Homo sapiens: one gene and its partner. The protein of the gene in region 2 purifies or fractionates together with the protein of the main gene of each other region. This does not show direct contact. Each region holds a gene or a part of one and is shown on either strand. Other genes may lie near its edges.

The links.
Region 1: the proteins of SATB2 (region 2) and PHF10 purify together in Homo sapiens (affinity purification with western blotting, with the first as the bait; one study listed by BioGRID). This does not show direct contact.

What each region holds. Positions count from the first base shown.
Region 1 is NC_000006.12:169,714,501-169,718,000, forward strand, and holds part of PHF10 (PHD finger protein 10), read right to left. Parts: intron 3,407-3,500; coding exon 3,323-3,406; intron 1,589-3,322; coding exon 1,455-1,588; intron 1,358-1,454; coding exon 1,208-1,357; intron 343-1,207; coding exon 233-342; intron 1-232. UniProt on the Homo sapiens protein: Involved in transcription activity regulation by chromatin remodeling. Belongs to the neural progenitors-specific chromatin remodeling complex (npBAF complex) and is required for the proliferation of neural progenitors.
Region 2 is NC_000002.12:199,321,940-199,325,439, forward strand, and holds part of SATB2 (DNA-binding protein SATB2), read right to left. Parts: intron 2,020-3,500; coding exon 1,864-2,019; intron 1-1,863. UniProt on the Homo sapiens protein: Binds to DNA, at nuclear matrix- or scaffold-associated regions. Thought to recognize the sugar-phosphate structure of double-stranded DNA.

The DNA of each region.
Region 1 (3,500 bases), on a different chromosome or scaffold from region 2:
AACCCAAACAGAATGGGCAGAGACAGAGGCATCTAGACTTCACCAGCATATATTCAAATTCTGACTACAGGGTATTGTTTACCACAGAACCAGAGAAGAATAGCAACACAAATCCTATACGATATCTTACGGTGATATCTATAGACCCCAAAATTGTTAGGAGGCAAGTACAAAAGGCTCTGAAACCCCTTACCAATAGCCGATACCAACTGTAACTAAAACTACTAAATACCTCTTATAATATTCCTGGAACTGTCCGGGGATGAGAGCCACTGGGTAAGAACTGACCTTTGTTCGCTCTGTTGGCAAAACTTTGTACTTCCCTTGAGGTACCTGGATAACCTACGTTAACATAAAGAGAAACACAAAACTGATTCCATGCTAAGAATCAAGGCTTTAGGAAGAGTCCCCACGTGCTCACCACTGCACGCCCACTTCCCCCTCGAAAAGCTAAAATTTTAGGAGATATCAGGAGCTATAACCTAAGAGGACAGTTGGTGCTTTCAGTTCTATATATTATTGTTTTAAAGGCCTATTCTCCTGAGGAATGGCAGTGGATCTCTTGCTCACTACTTAACAGCAGAGTGATCTGGGTAGCTTATACGACCTCTCTGTAGCTCAATTTCTTTATGAAATGGAAGTAATCCTAGTTCCAACCTCACATGGTTACTATGAGAATTAACATGCAAATCTCTTAAAAACTCTTGGGACGCACAGCAAGTATGATATGTAGCTATTATTAGTCTCATTTAGAATTATTAACCGTAAAGCAAAAGACATCTCACAAAAAAATGTAAATTGAGTATTATTAAGCACACCATTAAAAATAACATCTCAACTTCTGAGGAAAAAAAGAACACGCAGGTGTCAGCATGGCCAACATGGTAAAACACCATCTCTACTAAAAATACAAAAAATTAGCTGGGTGTGGTGGCAGGCGCCTGTAATCCCAGCTAATGGGGAGGCTGAGGCAGAAGCATCGCCTGAACCCGGGAGGCGGAGGTTGCAGTGAGCCGAGATCATGCCACTGCACTCCATCCTGGGCTACACAGACTCTGCCACAAAAAACAAAACAAAACAAACAAACAAACAAAAAAAACACACACACATAGGTGGTACAAAAAATAACGATAAAGGGGGTGATGGGCACTCTGCAATAACAAGTAATAAACTAAGTTCAGGGGGTACTAAATTTAAGTTATCCTACATGTGTCTGCAAGTCAAAATAAGCTCTTCTTTCTTCCATGCGTTCCCGGTTTAAGTTGCTATTAAATTCTGCTGCTTTTTTGGCAGCTTTCTTAATATACTCAGGCACTTTACTGGCTTCAACTTTCTGAGTATTCTGTTGTTGCATTTGCTGGAAAAAAAAAATACAGTTGGAAGTCACATATAACTTTCTAAAATGTCATTTTCCCCAACCCAAATAAAAAATGCCAGTCACCTCAATTACTTACGGAATACTCTTTATAATGGTCTGTAATTCGTTGACGTTCTTTTTCTTGTAGAATAACAGAATACTCAGCATGTTTGGCTGGATATTCTTTTATCATTAAATCAATCACTTCATCACTGCGCAATGCTGTTAAGCCTATTTTAGACCAAAAAATAAAAAAATAAAGAAGCTCTTTTAAGGATAAGTGAACAAAAGCACTCTTCAAAATTTAATTCTTCAAACCGCTCCACGTTGTAATGGTTTTCCAATAGCCAAAGCAAAATATCTTAGTACATTTGAAAATAATTAAACTTAATATTCACAATATAAACTCGAGCAATCAAAAGATTATCTTGCAAAAGGCAAATATATCAATTTTTCAACCAAACAAGTTTATTTTTAAGATTCTATGTGCTTTGAACATATATCCCTTTAGTTGGAAACAACTGTTAAATAATGAAATGCACTAACTACTAACAAGTACTACAGAATACTAGATGAATAAAAAAAAATTCAACATATTATAGTTCCCAGTCTTCAAATTCCATACACAAGAAATATTACAATCAATTAAAATTTCACCAAAAACATCAGCACACACACACACACCATGGAGACAATTTTCAAAACTCACAGTATCAGATTTCACCAATTGCTAAAATGCATTCCCAAGAATTTATATAAAAAGTAGCCATGTTGCATTAAAATGTTTGTGAAAAAAAGATTACAAATAAAGCACGGACATAATTATACAGAACTAAAAATTGAAGAAAATTTGCCTTTTTGCATTTTAGAGATGTGGTCTCGCCATCTTGCCCAGGCTGGAGTGCAGTGGCTATTCACAGACATGATCACAGCACACTACAACCCCAAAGTCCTGTGTTCCAGTGATCCTCCTCCCTCAGCCTCCCAAGTAGCTGGGACCACACGCACACACCATGCACTTAGCAAAGAACCTGCAACTTAAAAAAATATATTGTACAAGCTTTGTACAAAAAATACAAACACTCTGAAAACTCTGTAAAAATTATTAGACAAGGGCTGGGCATGGTGGCTCATGCCTGTAATCCCAGCACTTTGGGAGACCAAGGTGGGTGGATCACAAGGTCAGAAGTTGGAGACCAGCCTGGCCAACATGGTAAAACCCCGTCTCTAATAAAAATACAAAAATTAGATGGCTGTGATGACATGCGCCTGTAGTACCAGCTACTCGGTAGGCTGAGGGAGAATTCCTTGAACCCGGGAGATGGAGGTTGCAGTGAGCTAAGATCGCGCCACTGCATGCCAGCCTGGACAACAGAGAGAGACTCTGTGTTAAAAAAAAGAGAAAAATTAGACAATTATACTCTGTTATAGAATAGAGGTTGATCCTTGACTTGCAATGGGGTTACATATGATAAACCCATCCTAAGTTGAAACTATCCTAAAAAGTAAAAGCATTTAATACATCTAGCCTACCAAACATCTTTGCTTACCCTAGCCTAACTTAAACATGCTCAGAAAACTTACATTAGCCTACAGCTGGGCAAAATCAGCTAACACAAATTTTAATATAAAGTGTTGAATATGTCATGTGACTTGTTACATATTATACTGCAAGTGAAAAGAATAATGGTTGTATAGACACTTGAAGTATGGTTTCTACTGAATATGCATTGCTTTCACACCATCATGAAGCTGAACCATCATAAGTCAGGAACCACATGTGTGTTCAAGCTTCATTCTCCTGTGTATTTTAACAATAATCAAAAATGAAGTAAATAATGTAGCATTTAAATAGTTCAATTTATTTTATTAATTTTGTAAAATATTTTAGGAAATAAGATACTTATCTAGTATTATCTCATAAATGTTCAGCTTGAAAAATTCACATTAAAAAGCTATTCTTACCTAGAGTGCACTGAGTTTCAGTAATGACATTTAGCTCTCTCAGGTAGAGTTTCTCCTTGTGAGACAAATCTCGTCGCTCTAAATCTCCAAAAAAAAGATCAAAAGACTATTAAAAACAGCAAAACCTTATGCACTTGTAAAACTTTTAAAAGCTTAAAAACCTTGACTTTTTAAAGTA
Region 2 (3,500 bases):
ATTCCCAGAACTATGTTCTTCTCCAAATTCTACGAAATCAGGGCTACTGATTTCTTCAGGAGACATCAAAAATTTGGAGAGCTAAGCTTCTGCCAGTTGGCAAAAGCAGCTTTCAATCAGCTACCTGAATTATTTTAGGAGGCTGGAGGCATCACTATTTCCAAAAGCCATACTGCTAAATCAACAGGAAGATTACAGGCTTTTGGAATCAAGTTCTCAGACTGTGGTCTTCAGTTTTTCTTGAAAGCTGCTTATAAAAGAAGGACTGTGTGAAACTTTGATATTTACATCAAGTCACAACTAAGGGGCAGGTTTGCAAAATCAATTGTGCAGCTTTTATACTCACTGCACATTTACCACATATGTCCTTTATTACACAGTGGAAAACCATTAAATGCACAGTAGTTTTGCCAAGTGGCATTATGCATTTAACAGCTTTATTCGTTTAACAGCTCCAACTCTCATTATATTTTGCCATGTGGTACATGGGATTTTATGCATTTAACAGTTTAAGAAGGCTCTATGGTATTTTCTTTTCATGTATTTCATACTATGGTTGGACATTATGTCTTAGCAAACTGTATTTCACTGATTTCATTGAAGAGAGAAAGTCAGAGTAATCTGGAAAACTTACTACACTGAAATTGAAAAGGGAAACAAACATTTCAATCCCTTTCCAAGTTCCTTGATATTCTACTCCCCTCCTTTTATCAACATCTAAAAATAACCTATATCAGGTTAAAACTGCAGGTAAAGAAGGCTAACCCTGTACTCTATAATTAATCTAAATATAACATTTAACTACAGTTTGAAGTTTTTCAGTTTTAAAAATTTAATTTTTATTGAAAACCTTCTTGCTTAATAGAAATACAATACTCAGTCACTTCCTTTCTTTATAGCACACAACAGAAGATTTGTTAGGGAGATGATCAACCATTTGATTATTTACATATGTAGGGATGAAAACATTTGTCATATAAGGACACAGAGGAAATCAAGCTCAGAATCAAAGGACTCTCAAAATTATGCTTTAACTAACTTTTATTTCCTCCACTCTGCATTAGGTGTTCGCCCTAGGTATACATAAGTGAGCATGCACCTCAAACCTAGGATTCTAGGTTTGGGCAGAAGTTGTCCCTTTAAATGAAGAATTGAAGCAGATAGTAGATCCCATCAACTGTTGCTGCTTTCAGAAATAAAAAACCTAAGCATCTGTCTGCTCTTTTCCCCAGAGCATTACATTCTCCACAATCCCAGAACTCTGAAAAATTTTACTGGATAAGCTTCTGTGTTTTTCTGTTAAAAGATTTTAGCACTTACTCTGCACTCCCCCCACGTGTGTTTTCTCCTGAAAAAATCAACTGTATTCTGTACATAAAAGAAACACCTGACATCAAAAGGTGTCTCTGGGGCTGGGGAAAAGTGGTTATTATAACAGAGTTGGACATTCCCCTTGTGGGAACAGGAAAGGTGATGAGACTTGGCTAAAACTTGGTCTCAGAAAGGTGCTGTTATATACATTCTAAGTTTTGTTCATACACACACACACACACACACACACACACACACATATATAAAGGGAGAGAAACAAAAGGGTACATTGCAGTGTTTAGAATAAGGAGAGAAATCATTCGAGGCTAATTTTTTTTAATCTTTAAAAGAAAAAAGGTCAAGTTTTGGCTTCATCTCTATTTTGAACTCCAATGGGAATAAAAGCAAACTAGAGTAAAAGGCAGAACATGACAGGTTTCTTGGGGGTTATTACTGTTATTATTATTATAGGAACAGATGTATTTTTATTGGTGGAGGAAGGAGAAGGATCTAATTCCAGCCCTCGATTTTGCTTTTTTAAAAACCACTCACCTGACTTTTATTTGCAGCCACTTTGGCAAACAGGGCTTGAGACACCTTGGCCCTTTTCATCTCCTGTTGGATCTCGTCATAAATGGCAGCTGTGATGTTGATGTTGGCGCCGTCCACCTTAATAGGGAGGTCTGTTGTCGGTGTCGAGGTTTTGGCCTACCAAGAGACCATGAAAATAATAATTTAAAAAGTGCTGCATTCAGCCCAGCCATCTGTGCAGAAATTATCAAAGGATTTCAGTCAGCTGATGCCAAACTGCATTAGCTACAGAGGGACACTTCCTGTCCATTATTCTAATCAGGTTAATTGTGATTGGAAATAATTGCAGTGCATTCCTATAGGACATGCAGAATCCTGTCAACCCTGTTCTCTCACAGCATCCCAGACGAAGGTTCACAGGTAGGATGGCTCTCCTAGACACCAAACTATAAGCAACCATCTAACTACAAAACAAACATGCAGAACACACACACAGTTAACCTTTTCTTTCTAAAAATGGCACACCTTGGAATAAGAGCCAATTCTTCCAGAAAAAAAATAAGTAAATGGGTAGAGGTCTCTAAATAATAAATTATTACTCAATTTAATGCACTCCCAAGTCTCTCTTATTCTTTATTAAAGCTTTACATATGTCATTCGAGTATGTATGGTTTCCCATCATTATCATCATTATGCTACCCAGACAGTCACCTAATTTCACCTAGGAAATCAGTGGAAATGAAACAAAATTTCATTTCATAAAACTAGGCTTCACAATGCCTTTGATGTGCCGTTTTCATTTTCTTAAACTCATATTGCGGTTTTATGTATTCTGCAGTGCTCGTTTTAATTGAATGATTTCCCATCAGCTTCAGAGACAAATGAAGGACAATATAGAAGTCTGTACTTCTTGGGGTTAGGATAACCCTAAAATGTCTGAATCTACTTAATCCAAAAGACGGTCATAACATTTACTTGGTGTGAGCCCTAGAATGCATTGCTGGTGTCTAATAAGAGAGGGCTGAGACATTTTCTTAGAACCTCTGGCAGCAAGATTTCAGGAAAAGACATCCTTGATCCTTGTGCACTACCAGCCGAATTGGCCTAACCTGGGTTTTTTCTCTTTGTCCCCATTCACCCTAGAATCTCAAACCAACAGAGTTATCTCCAAATCACAAGTTTCCCTGTGCGGATGCCCTGAGCTGTTCTCTACTGGATCCAGCAGTATGCAGGTCCAGAGAAAGATGTAACAGGCAGTGTGGACTCTGTGACAAATGGTGTCTAGCGGCAGAACTTAAGGCCCTACGTTTCCATAAAGGCTTTGCTTCCTAACAGTGCTCAGTAACTTCTGCCATTTTTCTTCTACCTCCTTCTCTCATACTATTTTCTAATTACCGCAAAGCAATAATTACTATAATTTATGGCGTGCTTTTTATGGGCCAGGTACTCCAGAAAGCATTTTAACATTTGTTTTCACATTTAATTCTTTTAAGATTCCAATGAGTTAGATATTATTATTTTCATCTTACAGATGAAGAAACTGAAATAAAAGAGGATCTTAACCTAGGACACCCAGCAGCCAGTGAAGGAACCATGATCTGAACGCAAGTCTTTCAGGCTCAAAAACATGGGCTCAGGACACTGCACTACACACTGCC